2 separate regions of the Homo sapiens genome follow, and region 2 is linked to region 1. The links come from fine-mapping of genetic effects on gene expression. Tissue or cell type: skeletal muscle. Region 1 holds a variant in brackets; the other region holds the start of a gene. All regions are shown on one strand. Distances are from middle to middle.

What was found. PIP is the estimated chance that this variant, and not a neighbour inherited with it, causes the effect.
Region 2: MSX1 starts here. The variant in region 1 is fine-mapped to the expression of MSX1 in skeletal muscle (FUSION, PIP 0.95).

The regions. Positions count from the first base shown.
Region 1 is chr4:4,876,678-4,884,854 of GRCh38, forward strand. No RefSeq gene overlaps it. Among named protein-coding and RNA genes, the nearest start is that of MSX1, 21 kb to the left of the region's middle. The variant T/A (reference allele first, on the strand shown) is at 3,805.
Region 2 is chr4:4,855,099-4,863,275 of GRCh38, forward strand. It overlaps MSX1 (msh homeobox 1), which reads left to right and starts at 4,567. Exons shown (of 2, transcript NM_002448.3): 1 at 4,567-5,270; 2 at 7,603-8,177. The coding sequence starts at 4,802. The coding sequence ends at 8,045. RefSeq lists silencers at 4,389-4,448, 4,469-4,708, 4,719-5,158 and an enhancer at 7,212-7,883.

The sequences.
Region 1 (8,177 bases):
CACCACGCCCATCTAATTTTTTTTTTTTTTTTTTTTTTGCATTTTTAGTAGAGACAGGATTTCTCCACGTTGGCCAGGCTGGTCTCGAACTCCTGACCTCAAGTGATCCTCCCGCCTCGGCCTCCTAAAGTGCTGGAATTACAGGCATGAGCCATCATGCCCAGCCAATGACTCATTTTGTAGATGGGGAAACAGAGGCTCAGAAAGCTTAGAGAACTTTTCTGAGGTCACACAGCTATTGAATATAACAGCCATAGTCTGAACCTTGTCTGGTTGACTTTGAGGCCTGGCTCTATACTATCCCTTGTCCTCCTAAGTCTTTTCTTTTGCTAAATGTTCCCCTTCCTCCAGTGTCCCTTACCCTGGCCCGCAAGTCCCTACAGGATGTAGCTCCCCTGCCTCTTGTGACTTCAATGACTGATGCCATTGAGTGATTCTGGCTGTCTCTCCAGCACAGTGCACACATCCCTGCCGCAGGGCCTTTGAACTTGCTGTTCCCTCTTCCTGGAACGCTGTGCCCTGGTTATTTGTGTGATTCTTTCTGTCCCTTTTTTACCTGGCTCAAGTACCTGCTCGGTGGCTCAGAGAAGCCTTTCCTGACCCCTTGCCTAAAATTGTGCTGTTGTGAGTCTTTACGATCCCTCCTCACCTTGCTTTGTTTTTCTCCATTTAAACCACTCCATGGCAGCAGAGGTCATGCTTACACGTTTGTTTATTCTTTATCTGTCCCTCACTAGGCTCTGGGCTCCGTGAGGGCAGTGGCTTCATCTGTGTAATTCCCTGATCTTCCCAGCACCAGGAACAGCGCCCAGCACGCAGTAGGACTTTGATATTTGTTAAGTGAATGAAGGATTTTTTTTTTTTTTTTTTGAGACAGAATCTTGCTCTGTCACCCAAGCTAGAGTGCAGTGGCGTGATCCCGGCTCACTGCAACCTGTGCCTCCCGGATAGGGTTCAAGCAATTCTCCTGCTTCAGCTTCCCAAGTAGCTGGGATCACAAGCACATGACACCGGGCCCAGCTAATTTTTTTATTTTTTAGTAGAGACGAGATTTCACCATGTTGTTCAGGCTGGTCTCGAACTCCTGGCCTACGTCAAGTAGGTCTGCCTGCCTCAGCCTCCCAAAGTGTTGGGATTACAGGTGTGAGCCACTGCTCCTGGCCTGAAGGATTTCTGTCCTTGTTCTGCACAATAGGAGCCTGAGGCTTGGAGGAGCCTCAGGATGGCAAACTGGGCCCTGCTGAGCTCTGAGCCCAGCTCTAGGGCCTGTCCTTCCTGCCATCAATACTCGGAGGAGGCCCCACGGAACCCAGGGAGGCCCAGGAGGCATGGAGGTGGGTGCCGAGAAGTCAGCAGCCTCACCCTTGACAGCTGGCCATGGCAGTCAAGTCCCTGGAACCTGGATTTGGGGGAAAATGATAAAGGTGAAAAAGTTGGCCCTCATTTCCATGTAGGCCTGCCAGCTCCACGAATATCTTGCTACTTACCTGTCCCGACCAGACACAGGACACTTCAAGATTCCAAGAGATGGACCGGCTCAGGGTGATGGGGCTTCCGGGGCTGGTGCTGAAGGGAAGTGCCAATCTCTGAGGACTTCCATAAGCCAGAATGTTTATTTTCTAGTTCAATCCCCACAGTGATCCAAGAAGTTGGAATCAATACCACCTCCCCTTGGCTCTGAGATGGTGTGTGAGGACCCACAATTCCCCTTCTTTTCCTTCCATTTGGGAAACTTCTCTCAATTTTCCTAAAGGTTTACGTTTTATGGTGTGAGAGGAAGTATGAACACAGGAACTGGCTGAGTCTGGGGGCTCAGGAGCCAGGAAGCTTGAGTTCAAATCCTGGCCCCTCACTCCCTGGCTGTGTGACCTTTGGTGGATTTCTGAACCCCGTTAAGTGATCACGATCAGTTTTTTCATCTGGATGATGGGCTGTAATAACTCCTGCCTCTTAGGATTGTTCTGAGGATCAAATGAGTTGATGCACGTGATGTGCTTAGAACAGTGCCAGGGACTTAGTGAGGCTGAGATAAGCTGTCTCTCGTGGGATTCAGAAGCCGGAAGCCCTGAGGGTTCTTTCCTGTCCTCCCACCCTACAGAGCCAGGGTAGGAGCAGAAAAGAGGAGGCAAGGAAACACTGGAAGAAAAGATATACAGATAGTACCCTCACCTGCTCCCTCACCTTGTAAACCTCGTCACAAACCAGTGAGCTTGACAAGGCAGGGGTGTGATTCCCTTTAGCCAGATGAGGAAGCCACAGCCCGGAAAGATGGAAGGATTTGTCCAAGATTGCACGTGAGGGATAGGCCAGAATCGGAATCAGACATTTGGATTCCGGGGCCAGTGCTATATTCTGGTCACATTTGCACATGGCACCGCTTTTCCTTGGATCTGCCTTCTGAATGGCAATGGACTGATCATGACTCAGATGAGCTAGAACCTGAAGACACGATAGGGAGTTGGACCCTGTTTTACTGCTAATCCTAGGTCAGAGCACAGCCACTGAACTCCAAGGCTTTTCTAGAAGCTTTCAGCAGGCACTATCAGTCTGTAATAGCCGTGAGATATGTATGGACAAGGAGTTCCAAGAAATCCTCAAAATGTAGGTGGACGGATGAAATTCCACTTGGACACAATTGTGGTAAAAGTCATTTAAGTAATTAGCGTCTGAGTACTTTTCTGTATATGTGGATGGGGGAAAGGAAGAGTAATTTCTGTTTGCTAAGTAACTAGCAGGTTCTCCAAGTCTGTTCCTTAATCAATTAATTAATTTTTTTTGAGACACGGTCTTGCCCTGTCGCCCAGTCTGGAGTGTGGTAGCACAATCATGGCTCACTGCAGCCTGGACTTCCCAGGCTCAGGTGATTCTCCCATCTCAGCCTCCCGAGTAGCTGAGACTACAGGCACGTGCCACCACACCTGGCTAATTGTTGTATTTTTATGTAGAGACAAGGCTTCATCATGTTACCCAGGCTGATCTTGAACTCCTGGGCTCAAGCAATCCCTCCGCCTTGGCCTCCCAAAGTGCTGGGATTACAGGCATGAGCCACTGCACCCAGCCTTGTTCCTTAATTTACTACTCACATCAATAGCTAGGGAAATGAATGTCTGGTTCCAGTTTTTCAGGGAATCCTGCAGCCCAGTGAGAATGAGTCAGTTGCTCAGGATCACACAGTTAATAAACCAGTATCTGGAATTCAAATTAAGTTCTGTGTGTCTCTAAAGCACATGCCGTTTCAATCCACTCACGCTGAGGGACCTACGCTTGCATAAGTGCCTTTTTAACACATAAATAAGCTCTAAAGGCAGTGTGGAAAGTGGTTGCAAAAATATAAATCAAATAATATGCTTAGAGGAAGAACAAAGAATGTTAACTGAAAAAAATAGCAAACAATGAACAAACTCTGAACCCTCTCTTGGTGTTGATGACTTTCACTGGAGATCATAAGGAAATAGAAACTCTTAAAACCAGTCATCGGACTTGTTAATAATGGGCTCGTAGGAGAATGCTAATGAAATGTGATGAGTTTTTTTCTTGTTAAAATCTCATTTCAAATAACTCCGTTCGTCATCCATTTTTTACAAGGAACGAAAACAAATGTTTTCCAAAGCTTCAAACCAAAATCTCTGTGTGGGTTTCTTGTTTTGAGCCAAATATTCTGTGTCTTTTCCCAGCTGGGAATTCCCTCCCCATCTTTGTTGGTCCAAGTCCTATGTGTCCTGTGGGTCCAACTCCTCCCTCCACCGTCCTCTGACAGAGAGTCAAAGTCCTGGGTTCAAATCCAGTATCCACCCCCCCTTTTTT[T/A]AATTAAAATTTATTTTTTGTTTTAATATAAACAGTTTTTAAATATATTTCCCCTGTAAAGGGATACATATGTTTATAAAGCCTGTTTCCACTTCTCCCTAGAGGTTATTTTTAAAAGTTGTTTGTAAAATTAATTTTGATTTTTTTAATTAAAGAAGTCATATATCATTTTAAAGGTCAAATGGTTTTCAACAGCATATAATGAAAAAGAGCAGCGCCACCCTGTGCCTGCCCAGACCAAATATTTTCCCCAGATGGAGCATTTTCAACCTTTAGTTATTTCTTCTGGCATTTTCTTACCTCTTTCTAAATCACCTCTCTGCACTGATAATCCTTGATTTTTTAGTATTAAATATTATTGATGGACTTTCTGTTACGAAGATGAAGATTAGCTCTTATGCTGCTTTCCCAAGTACCCTCTCACCATTCTCATAAGGGTATCATTTTTTGTTAGATCAATATTCTGTGGTTACTATTATGACCACATAAATAGTGTCCGTAGTTATGCCACATAATATGCTTTAATTACATTTCCTGTCTTGTATAACCTTTCTTTCTGGAAGTTGATAATTGCCTTTATGCTTTCTTTAGTTACCTATGTGCTTGTCATTAATTTCACCTCTTCACTCTCTCAGAAATGGAGAACTATTCTGAGCAAATTTACACACGCCAGGTAACATCCCCATTCCCTTTCTCCTCTCGGAGACACTTCTCTTGGAGAACGTTGCCCTCCTACCACTGGTTGTCCTGGAAGCCATCAAACAGCTGTCAACCCTGGACTTCCCTGCTCCGTCATCTGAGAAGTCCCCTTTGCCCATTTCCTGAGTTGGAGCCCTGATTTCCTGGGTTTCAGGCCTTCCTTTTGCTTCATTGATTTCCTTTCTTGGAGCATCTCCTTCAGTAGCTTCCTGAGAGAAGCTGCATGGAAGGTAACATTTTCAAAGTTTTGCATGTCTGAGATTGTCTTTATTCTCCTCTTACATTTCAGTGATAGTTTGCTTGGATGTAGCATTGTACCTCCTCCAACCGTGGAACCATTTCTCTGTGATCTTGTTTCCAGCTATTGATAGTCTGATGTCATTCTAATTCTTATTTTCTTTCCCTGTGGGGTTTTGGATTCTTTTCCTTATCTCTGTTGCTTGGGAATTTCATCATCCTGTGCCTTGGTGTGGTTTTATTTTGTTGTTTGTGCTGGGCCCAAGTGAATCCTTTCAATCTGGAAACCTGTGGCCTTCAGTTGCAAGAAAGTACAGGTTAAGCATCCCTAATCTTAAAATCTGAAATCGGAAATGCTCCAAGATCTGAAATGTCTTGAGAGTGGACATGATGTCACAAGTGGAAAATTCCACATCTGATCTCATGTGACATGTCACAGTCAAAATACTGGTGCACAACACATCGTTTATTTCATATCCCCAAAGGAAAAAAAGGCCTTCTCAGCCCGCTTCAGCAGTGATGTATCTTTTCCACGCACATCCAGGTTCCCTCTGCCCCTCAAGCACTCACACAGAGAATAAAATAGCACTTTCACAGGCTGAGGCACCAGTAACACATTCCCCACTATGCCCCACATGAAGCCAAGATCTACCTGCATTACTCACTTGGTTCTTTTTCTTATTCTCTGCTGTGTGGTGTAAAGTTATTGATTAAGGCCAGGAGCGGTGGCTCACACCTGTAATCCCAGCACTTTGGGAGGCTGAGGCGGGTGGATCACCTGAGGTCAGGAGGCCGAGACCAGCCTGGCCAACATGGTGGAATCTCATCTCTATTAAAAATACAAAAATTAGCTGAGTGTGGTTGCGGGCACCAGTAATCCCAGCTACTCTGGAGGCTGAGGCAGGAGAATTGCTTGAGCCTGTGAGGCGGAGGTTGCAGTGAGCCGAGATAGTGCCACTGCACTCCAGCCTGGGCAACAAGAGTGAGACTCCATCTGAAAAATAAATAAATTAATTACATTAAATAAAAATAAATAAATAAATAAAGTTATTGATTAAAATTTTAAAGGCCTGCTGATACTCCCATGGGCTAAAAAAAAAAAAAAAAAAAAGAAGTGATAAGAAAAAAAGGAAGCATTTGTGTTTATCTATAACATGGAAAGTCAAGCTGTTGGAGAAGCCGGACAGTGCTGCAGATGTAAAACATCAGATGGAAGAGCTCAGTGTTGGAATGACCATGGCACATGACCTGAAGAAACAGAAGGATGAACTGTCAAAGTACTATGCCGCAAGAAACGAACAGAAGTTAATGAAACTAGAAAAAAACTGCGTAAAGCTAAAAATGAAGATCTCAGCTGTGTACTGAGAGTGACCCCGTCAGTGTTGTATGATGGTACCCTGATCATTAAATAAGCAAGGATCAGTCAAGCTGAACAAAAAATTGAAGGAAACTGTGAATATTCAACAGGCTGGATGCAGAAATTTAAGAAAAGACAACATTAAGCTGAGCTCAGTGGCTCATGCCTGTAATCCTAACACTTTGAGAAGCTGAGGAGAAAGTGTTGCTTGAGCTCAGGAGTGTGAGTCAGCCTGGGCAACATAGTGAGACCTCGTCTATACAAAACATGTTTTTCTAAGATTTTTTATTTCCACTGTATTTTTATTTCACATCATCCCAGATTCTTTTTATCTCCTTAAAACACTGACTTACAAGATAATTTAAATATTTTTGTTAAAGCAGTTACGGTCAATGCCCCACTGTGTCTGCAATGAAAAAATACATATCCTGAATATTTGGGGATGAGATTTCTGTTTTGATTTTACTCCAGAAAAACCAATTACTATACAAAACTTTTTAAAAATTAGCCAGGTATGGTATGTGCCTATAGTCCTAGCTACTTAGGAGGCTGAGGTGGAAGGAAGGCTTGAGCCCAGCAGGTTGAAGCTGCAGTCAACCATGATTGCACCACTACAATCCAGGCCAGGTGAGAGAGTGAGACCCTGCCTGTCTCAAAGAAGAAAAGAAAAAATACCAAAATTAGCTGGGCGTAGTGGCTCTCACCTGTCGTCCTAGCTACTCAGGTGGCTGAGGCAGGAGAATCACTTAAACCTGAGAGGCGGAGGTTGCAGTGAGCCCAGATCACGCCACTGCACTTCAGCCTGGAGACAGAGCGTGACTCCTTCTGGAAAAAAACAAAAACAAACAAACAAACAAAAAAAAAAAGGAAAGAAAATAAAAGAAAATTAAAGACAGCATTAAATTCTTAAAGATTTGTGGTGATAAAACATTTGCTGATCAAGAAGCAGTGAGGAAATTCATTAATGAGTTTGCCAAGTTCATCACTGATAAAACTCTACAGACACAAGAGCAACTCTACGACACTGATGAAACATCACTGTTTTGCTGAGCTTGCCCCAGAAAGACACTGACTACAGCTGATGAGACAGCCCCTGTGGGAATGAAGGATGTCAGGGGCAGAACGACGGTGCTGGGATGTGCTAATGCAGCAGGCACGCATAAGTTTGAGCTTGCTGTGATGGGCAAACACTTGCACCCTCACTGTTTTCATGGAGTAAATTTCTTACCAGTCTAATTGTTATACTAACAAAAATGCATGCAGTACCAATTCTGATTGATTTCACAAACATTTTGTTTTTTAAAAACTCGATTTAATTTAGTTTAAAAAAATAGAGACAGGGTCTCATTATGTTGCTCAGGCTCGTCTTGAACTCCTGGGTTCAAGCAATCCTCCTGCCTCAACCTCCCAAAATGTTGAGATTACAGGTGTGAGCCACTGTGCCCGGCCTATTTCACAAACATTTTGTACCAGTGACTTGTGCTCAGGGAAGCTGAGCTAGATATGACTGCAAGATTTTCTTATTCCTTTTATTTTATTTTATTTTAATTTTTTAGAGACAAGGTGTCTCTCTGTCACCCGTGCTGAAGTGCAGTGGTGTTATCCTAGCTCACTGCAGTCTTGAACTCCTAGACTCAAGTGATCCTTCCACCTCAGCTTCTCAAGTAGCTAGGGCTACAGCTAATTTTTAAGTTTTTTGTAAAGACAAGATCTCATTATGTTGCCCAGGCTGATCTCAAACTCCTGGGCTCAAGCACTTCTCCCGCCTTGGCCTTCCAAAGTGCTGGAATTACAGGCATGAGGCACAAAACCTGGCCAGGTTTTGTTATTCCTTGACAACAGTTCTGCTCATCTTTCAGCTGAGATTCTCATAAAAAATGCTTATGCCATGTACTTTCCCCAAATGTGACTTCATTAATTCAGTCATGTGACCAGGTTATCCTTAGATCAATGAAGAGTAAATATAAAAACCCTCTCTTGAACAGCGCGCTAGCAGCAGTGAACAGTGGTGTGCGTGTGGGAGATTTTCAAGAGGAGTTGAGCGCAAAGGAGGCTGTAAACACTGTTGCCAATGCTGAGA
Region 2 (8,177 bases), 22 kb before region 1:
TGGGACGGTAGGGAGAGCAGACAGTGGGGGAAGGGGGGGGGGGTGGGGGCAGAAGCCGGGAGTGGGGCTTGTCAATTTCGCCTTGGCGCCGGGTGAAATCCACTCCACGCGGACTGTACCACCGCACAAGTTGCACCCACTTTGAGGAGGATTTAGCAAGAAGGAGGAAACATTTTCACAAAGAGTTTGTATTTTGACTTCGCTGTTAAAAGGAGGTACCAAAACTCCTGAAAAGCGCAAGTTCTGCCTAGGTCTCCGGAAAGCAGAACGCTGTTTTTCTCCAGGTCTGTGTCGTGGATCTTCAACCAGTAGCTGAAGACTCCCTGGAGTTCTCAGGGCTCGGAGTTTTTCTCTGGAACGCTGTGAAGTCCTCCCGAAGTTAGTGACTCCCAGTTTGCTGAACCTGACTCCCAGCCCCTCACTTCTAGGCGACAGAGGCCAAAAGAGTGGAGATGGCTGGGTCGGGAGGCCCCCTTCGCAGATTGGGAGACCCCGTGACAGTGCTTTCTGTCTGCCCGTCAACCCCCACCCCCTCCCCGGGACAAAATACCTCCTCTCTCTCCCCCTCCGTCGCCCTCCTGGCGATTGGTGAATTCCCACCAAAATAAATCGTTCCGGGTAATCGGTTTTCATAGCACATTCATTCTATTAAAGAGGACTGTTTGGGGCTCGCTAATTGCCGGGGGATCCCACTGAGCTGCACATTTTTAAAAAATGCACGCGGGATTCCTGGGCCGAGGTCACAAAATGCAGTGGAAAGAGAGGGAGGGAGCATAAACAAAAACCCGACGGAGGCGACAACAAATGCCGAAGTGAGAAGTCAGCCTCCAGGCTCTTCCAACCGGTGCAGCAATACCCAGATAGGGATAACCGTCTTTAGGACGGGGTCCTTCTAAAAATTAATCTTTGCACGGGAGTGGTGTATACTTAGCAACACCACCATCCCTGCCTCCATCCCCCCAACCCCCGCAAAATTTTGGGGGAAAAAAAAAACCAGCTAAACCCACCACCAGTTTAGTTGCCCAGAAAGTAGACGAAGGATAATCCATCTTCAGGATCCGAAATGCAGAGGCCCTCTACTTGGGGGCGGGGAGTGCTTTAGGATGCCTGAAAATGAGGGGAGATGGAGCGAGAGGGGAGGGGAGAGAAGTCTAGAGGATGGAAGCGGAGCGCCAGTCCCCGAGCTTTATCTGCTGGGGCCAGCCCTGCCCTTGCCAGGCATGAATTACTGCCCGGCTTTCTCGGCTGCAGCGGCAGCGCAGAGAAATGCCGGGGGTACAAACGCCTCGAGGTTAGAGCTGGCGGCGAGATAACAGGCTCAGCCCCAGGGCCTGCCTGCTCGCTGAACCCCTGGGCCGGGAAATCGGTAAAGTCCTAGACAAAAAATAACTCAGAGAAGTCTCCCTCTCACTGCCCCTGTAACTCGTGGCTTTCCTCCCGCGGGAACAAACAACGCCCTGGGAAACAGGCAGACATTTTATTTCTTTTATCTGACTCCTTTCTCTTGAGACTGCCGGCACCTTTCTTTCTCTCGCAATCCAGGGGCAGAGCAATGGGAAAGCCCCGCGCTTTTCTGACACGGAATTGAGTCTGAACCCCCTTCTCTGCCGATGCACTCTTCTCGCCTAGCAACGTTTACACGCGGTTAACCTGCCGCGCGGGGCGACAGCAGACACGAACCCAGGCCGAACCTATAAAGAAGACACCGTGGCGTTCAGACCCGGCTCGGGAAGCCGAGGGGCTGGCTGCGGGGCCGGTGCTGCGGGGCCAGGCGATTTGCTCCCCGGAGGCAGGGGCGCGACTTCAAGGGCCCGTGCGCCGGGTGCAGCCTTTGATCCGGCCGCCGCTGGCGCCTTAAAACAACATCCTAGTCTGCCTATTAGGCGCGCTGAGGAATCGTGACACATTGTTTATCCCCGCAATTAGCGATGCGGCCCTTTTCAGGCCGCCCGCCCCCGGGCCCCCCGCCCCCCCCCCCCCCCCCGCGGCGGAGTCCAGGCCTTGCTGCGCTCCTCAACTGCGACCGCCGCAAGTTCCACACTAGCCCCCGCTGCACCATGCGGCTTCGCTCTCTGAGTTCAAGCCCCCGCTCAGCCCTAAAGCAGGGGTTCTTAACTGGAGGACTCCACTTGGGACCAGAGCCCCCGAAGTTGTCTGCCCCGTTGCTTGTAATGTGTTTTTGTAGGTGTGCATTTTTCTAGGGAAGAAGTTCTTGGCTGTATCAGATTCTTAAAGAGACCTGGGAGCAAAACATTTGCAGAAGGAGGGCGAGGGCGGAACTAAGCAAAGACTCGAAAAGGCACACTGCTCGCTTTTTAAATGGCCCCAAAAGCAGATAGGCCTCTGTTTCCTCTCCCCCTTTAACCTGGCCACAAAGGGAGATTCTGGCTGGGTGCGGAGGGGGTTGTTCTGACGAGAGTTTGATTAGAACGGGAGCAATAGAAGTTCGCCGTCCTGGAATCGCTTGAACCTGGGAGGCGGAGGTTGGAGTGAACTGAGATCGCGCCATTGCACTCCAGCCTGGGCGACAAGAGCAAAACTCCGTCTCAAAGAAGAGGAAGAGGAAGAAGAAGGAGGAGGAGGAGGAGGAGATGAGGAGGAGAGGAGGAAGAGGAGGATGAGGAGGAGGAGAAAAGAGGAAGAAAAAGAGGAAGAGGAAGAAGAAGAAGAAGAGGAAGAAGAGGAAGATGCTGTTGTTCGCTGTCCTGGCTGGGCTACCAGCAAGGTATTTGCCCTACAGCCTTGCTCAGCCTCAGCGAGCTGAGCTTCAAAATTGGGTCTTAAGGTCTTCTATCCTTGTACCCTCTCGGGCAAACCTCCGGAGGCCCCGGTGCACCGCGCGTCCAGCCGGCCCAACTCGAGCTAGAAGCCCCAACCACTGCCCAGTGCCTGAGTTGCAGTCTTGGGTCCTTTAGAAACCTGGAGATGTGCGTAAAATTCAGATGCCGGTATTCCCGAACTTCCCCAGGCCTCAGCATATCTCGGCGGCCTGTGGACAGATGGGAGGCTACCAATCGCTCCGGCGTCCGCAGCCCGACCCCTGCCGCCAGACCCCGGACGTCTTCCGGATAATAAAGTTCCCGCTCTAATTCATTTTCCCTAATCTGGACGCCCCTAATCTACAGCTTTTATTGCGCCCAGTTAAAAGTCGAGGGAATTCGCTGTCCCTCCGCGCTCGGATAATTACCCCTAAATGGCCACGGCAGCCCCTTGTGTTTCCTGGAGATTAGAACCCCGCAGTCATCAATGGCAGGGCCGAGTGAGCCGCCAATCACCTCCGCTCACTCCCTGAGAGCCGCTGGCCTGGGCCGCAGGAGGAGAGGCCATAAAGCGACAGGCGCAGAAAATGGCCAAGCCCCGACCCCGCTTCAGGCAGATCTTGCATCTCCCCTGACCCCAACTCATTTTTTCTGTCTTTATTATTATTATTATTATTAACAGCAAACATTAAATCACGTTTTCTCCGAAATTGGCAAAAGAAGAGTTCTCAAGTCCCACACTAGAGTCCACCTCCAGGAACTTTCCTCTTTTCCCAGCCCCCTCCCCCAAATGTGCCTCTCCCCTCCAGGATCAGCGGCCCAGAGATAGGGACATGTCATTGTTTCCGAGGACGCGTTGTTTGAGGTCACCTTAAGGCCAGATCGGTGTTTCATTGACGATTCTGTTGGTTTTATTTCAGTAAGTTCTATATCAAAAGGATCTGGCAGCTCCTTTCCCCGCCCGGGCGCTATAGGTGTTGTGACCCTTGGGACAGAAGTTCAGAGCGAGGGTGGGGGGGGGGGAATACACATCGTGTATGAAAACCGACTGCAGATTCTAGATAATCTTACGTATTCTCACATCCTTGGCACTACAGGAAGCTAGCTTCTTCCCGCAAGGTTTACTCCAGCTCTAAGTTAGAGACAAAGGCCCACTTTTACCTCGAGGTAAAGTTTACAAGATTTCAGAACAGGAAGAAAATGAAGGTTTGGTTTTGTTTCGTTTCTTGAAAAGAAGTTAATAGTATGTCTTTCTCCTAGGATAAATAGCCATGCGTATTTTAAAAACTATATATAAAAGGAATGTGTAAGAAATAACCTCAACTCAAATTATTGTGGTAGAAGAAGAGGGGGGGTCAGACAGTGGAGGGGGGCACAGGGAAACCCAGCCACAGACTAAAGAGAAAGGTAAAAGAAGCAGTAGAGGAGAGAAACAAGGACGGGGAAAAAAAGAGGAGCGGAAAAGAGGGCTGAGGAGGGGAGGGGAGGGGAGGAGAGGAGGGCAGAAGAGAAGGAACGAGAACAAGGGAAAATCCCCCGGGAACACAGAAAGATAGAGACCCAGGGGACTCCCGCAGAGAGGGCCTCTTGGGCTTCAGCGCAGAGGAAAGTTTCCCGGGCACCCCCTCTCCTCCCCTGCCCTCCGCCGCCTGGGCCCTGCCCTGCGTGCCCCCAGGCCCAGCGCGCCTCCGGGCGAGTCCCCAGGAGCGCGGCCCAATGGATCGCTCCGGGCCCGCCCCCTCGCGCGCTGATTGGCCGCCGCCCCGCTGGCCTCGCCTTATTAGCAAGTTCTCTGGGGAGCCGCGGTAGGGCCCGGAGCCGGCGAGTGCTCCCGGGAACTCTGCCTGCGCGGCGGCAGCGACCGGAGGCCAGGCCCAGCACGCCGGAGCTGGCCTGCTGGGGAGGGGCGGGAGGCGCGCGCGGGAGGGTCCGCCCGGCCAGGGCCCCGGGCGCTCGCAGAGGCCGGCCGCGCTCCCAGCCCGCCCGGAGCCCATGCCCGGCGGCTGGCCAGTGCTGCGGCAGAAGGGGGGGCCCGGCTCTGCATGGCCCCGGCTGCTGACATGACTTCTTTGCCACTCGGTGTCAAAGTGGAGGACTCCGCCTTCGGCAAGCCGGCGGGGGGAGGCGCGGGCCAGGCCCCCAGCGCCGCCGCGGCCACGGCAGCCGCCATGGGCGCGGACGAGGAGGGGGCCAAGCCCAAAGTGTCCCCTTCGCTCCTGCCCTTCAGCGTGGAGGCGCTCATGGCCGACCACAGGAAGCCGGGGGCCAAGGAGAGCGCCCTGGCGCCCTCCGAGGGCGTGCAGGCGGCGGGTGGCTCGGCGCAGCCACTGGGCGTCCCGCCGGGGTCGCTGGGAGCCCCGGACGCGCCCTCTTCGCCGCGGCCGCTCGGCCATTTCTCGGTGGGGGGACTCCTCAAGCTGCCAGAAGATGCGCTCGTCAAAGCCGAGAGCCCCGAGAAGCCCGAGAGGACCCCGTGGATGCAGAGCCCCCGCTTCTCCCCGCCGCCGGCCAGTGAGTAGCCAGAACCCAGGCGCAGAGGGAGGGGGCCGGGTGGGGGCCGGGTGGGGTGTGGGACCCGAGGGCTCCTGGTGGCCTCCGGCGCCTGCGTACCTGCAGCCGGTGCTAGGGAGCCGTGGGCTGCAAGGCCGGGTCTTGCGCCTCCCTCCACTCCCACCCAGGAAGAAGGTTCCAGACCTCCTCGCCTTGGCCCAGAGACGCTGCGGGTGGGAGTTAACGGATAGGACACCGATGTCTGGGCACCCTGTCCTCCTGCCCCCACCAAACGACCTCAGGGGTCCATGATCCCTCATCTGATCCCAAACTCTGTTTCATCGGCTTCACCCCAGCGGATGAATGTGTGTGGTGCGGTATCTTCCCTGCACCCGGAGTTTCACTTTCTCGCAGTAGGAGCTGGTGTCCCCCAGCCCCTCTTCCCTTTCAAGTACCTCTTTGCCTAGAGGTTCCGAAGCTCCTACAGAATTCTACCTCCCCATGCCCTTTGAGTTTGAGGCAGATAGTTGGTGCTTTGGGCGGATGGATGATTCAGGGGTGGGGACATTCAGGTTCCAGTGGAGGGGGCGGGGCACCAAGTCAATTAGGGGAAGGCGCCCCCGCTAATCCTATGGGAAGCTCCCAAACGTCTAGGACTGAGCCATTAAAGTGGACTCCAGGTGCCCAAGGCGGTTCGCTCCAAGGCCTCACGGCCCCCTGGCTGCTCTACTCAGAGAACACGCTCGGAGATATTTCAGGAGCACGGGAAATTCCCAAGTTTTCCTCGTTTCCTCCGATTATTTTGCTCGGCATAATAGCAGCCAGATTTCAATGGCGTGATGCTGAGGAATGATTTTTATCTGGGGATTAAACGTCTTTGAAAGGCCAGTCCCTCCCTAAGCCTAATGGCCGGAGAAGGTGGCCCCGCTCTGGGTTGTCGCCGCTGAAGGGAGTGACGTTTCTCTCGGCGCCCGCCCCTCGGGCGGCCCGGCGGAAAGCTAGTTGGGGGCCAAGCGCTTCCCGGACTCCCGGTGGCCTCCAGCAGGGAAGAAGCGGGGTGTTAACACGAGATTTCGTTTGACTCACATCCTGGTGGTCTGAAAGTCCAAAGGATCGTTGTGTTTTCTTTGTTTTGTTTTGTTTTTTCTGTTTGTTTGTGGTTGTTTTTTAGAGAGGTGTGAAAAAATGCATACTTAGGCAAAACCCGCGTGGTGAAACATCTTCGATTTGAATTCACTTTCTGCCGGGAAAGCTGCTGCATAGGCAAAGTGTCCTTTCCAACGCTTAGGGCCTTGGGCCCCAAGACCCCGAAGTCAAAGCGATCCCGGCTGTGTTGGGATAATTTGTTCCACATTTTATCCGGGGGCAGTCCCCAGCAGACCCCATCCCCGACCTGCACTAGTCCTGCGCTCTGATGCTTCTTCACTGTCCACCCTTGAGGTTTATTTTGAAGCCAAAAGAAAAAGACAGCTGGGCATGTTGATGTCTGCTGACTATGCCACAGGTTGAGGGGAGAGGCGATCTCAACACTCCCCCCGCAACAACATCAACACACACACACACACACACACACAAACGTTTGAGTGGGGCCAGAGGGCCCTGGCGCCAGGGGTGAACGCGATCCAACAGAGGACTGAGACAATCTAAAGAAAAAGCCCATTAGAATAAAGCAGCCCCTCGTTCTCCGCTCCAGATGACACTTTCTGTTTCTAAGAGGGCTGGCCACAGTGCACCCTCCATGATGGTCTGCGCTGCTCCATCTCTGGTCTGCGGGAACTACTCCTAGAATCCCGTAGGAGCGAAGTGTTCCGGGGAAAGTGTAGAATTTGATTTGGATTCTATGCCACAAAACTGCCTAGCCCCACACTGAAGCACTCCGTGGGCACTGATAAATGTTTGGCCAACGCGTAAAACTAAATGTGCCCTTGGGCTGGGCGCAGGGCCTCTTTCTGCATGTTCGTCAACTGTATTAACATCCACCTTTCCTCTGGATGGCCCTGGGAGGAGGCCCGCCATGAAGGCCTTCCTAAGCCGCCGGGCAGCACAAAGGTGATTTCACATCTTCCCAGCTGTTTAGGCCTAAGATGTGGACATCGAGCCTTCAACGTGGGTATTTTTCTCCTGGAATCTTAGTTTCTTCATTTGCAAAAAGTAGACAGGAACTTCTCCCCTGCGGGGTTGCAATGGGAATTGGAGAAAATATATTTCAAGTGCCTTGCGCGATGCCCGGCACCGAGGCACTTGGCGGCACTCAATATCTGGTATTGTTTGGCTATTATTACTACTTCTTGGGCTGATCATGCTCCAATGCTTCTCTCTTAACCCCTTGCTTTTTTTTTCTTTCGGCCCTCAGGGCGGCTGAGCCCCCCAGCCTGCACCCTCCGCAAACACAAGACGAACCGTAAGCCGCGGACGCCCTTCACCACCGCGCAGCTGCTGGCGCTGGAGCGCAAGTTCCGCCAGAAGCAGTACCTGTCCATCGCCGAGCGCGCGGAGTTCTCCAGCTCGCTCAGCCTCACTGAGACGCAGGTGAAGATATGGTTCCAGAACCGCCGCGCCAAGGCAAAGAGACTACAAGAGGCAGAGCTGGAGAAGCTGAAGATGGCCGCCAAGCCCATGCTGCCACCGGCTGCCTTCGGCCTCTCCTTCCCTCTCGGCGGCCCCGCAGCTGTAGCGGCCGCGGCGGGTGCCTCGCTCTACGGTGCCTCTGGCCCCTTCCAGCGCGCCGCGCTGCCTGTGGCGCCCGTGGGACTCTACACGGCCCATGTGGGCTACAGCATGTACCACCTGACATAGAGGGTCCCAGGTCGCCCACCTGTGGGCCAGCCGATTCCTCCAGCCCTGGTGCTGTACCCCCGACGTGCTCCCCTGCTCGGCACCGCCAGCCGCCTTCCCTTTAACCCTCACACTGCTCCAGTTTCACCTCTT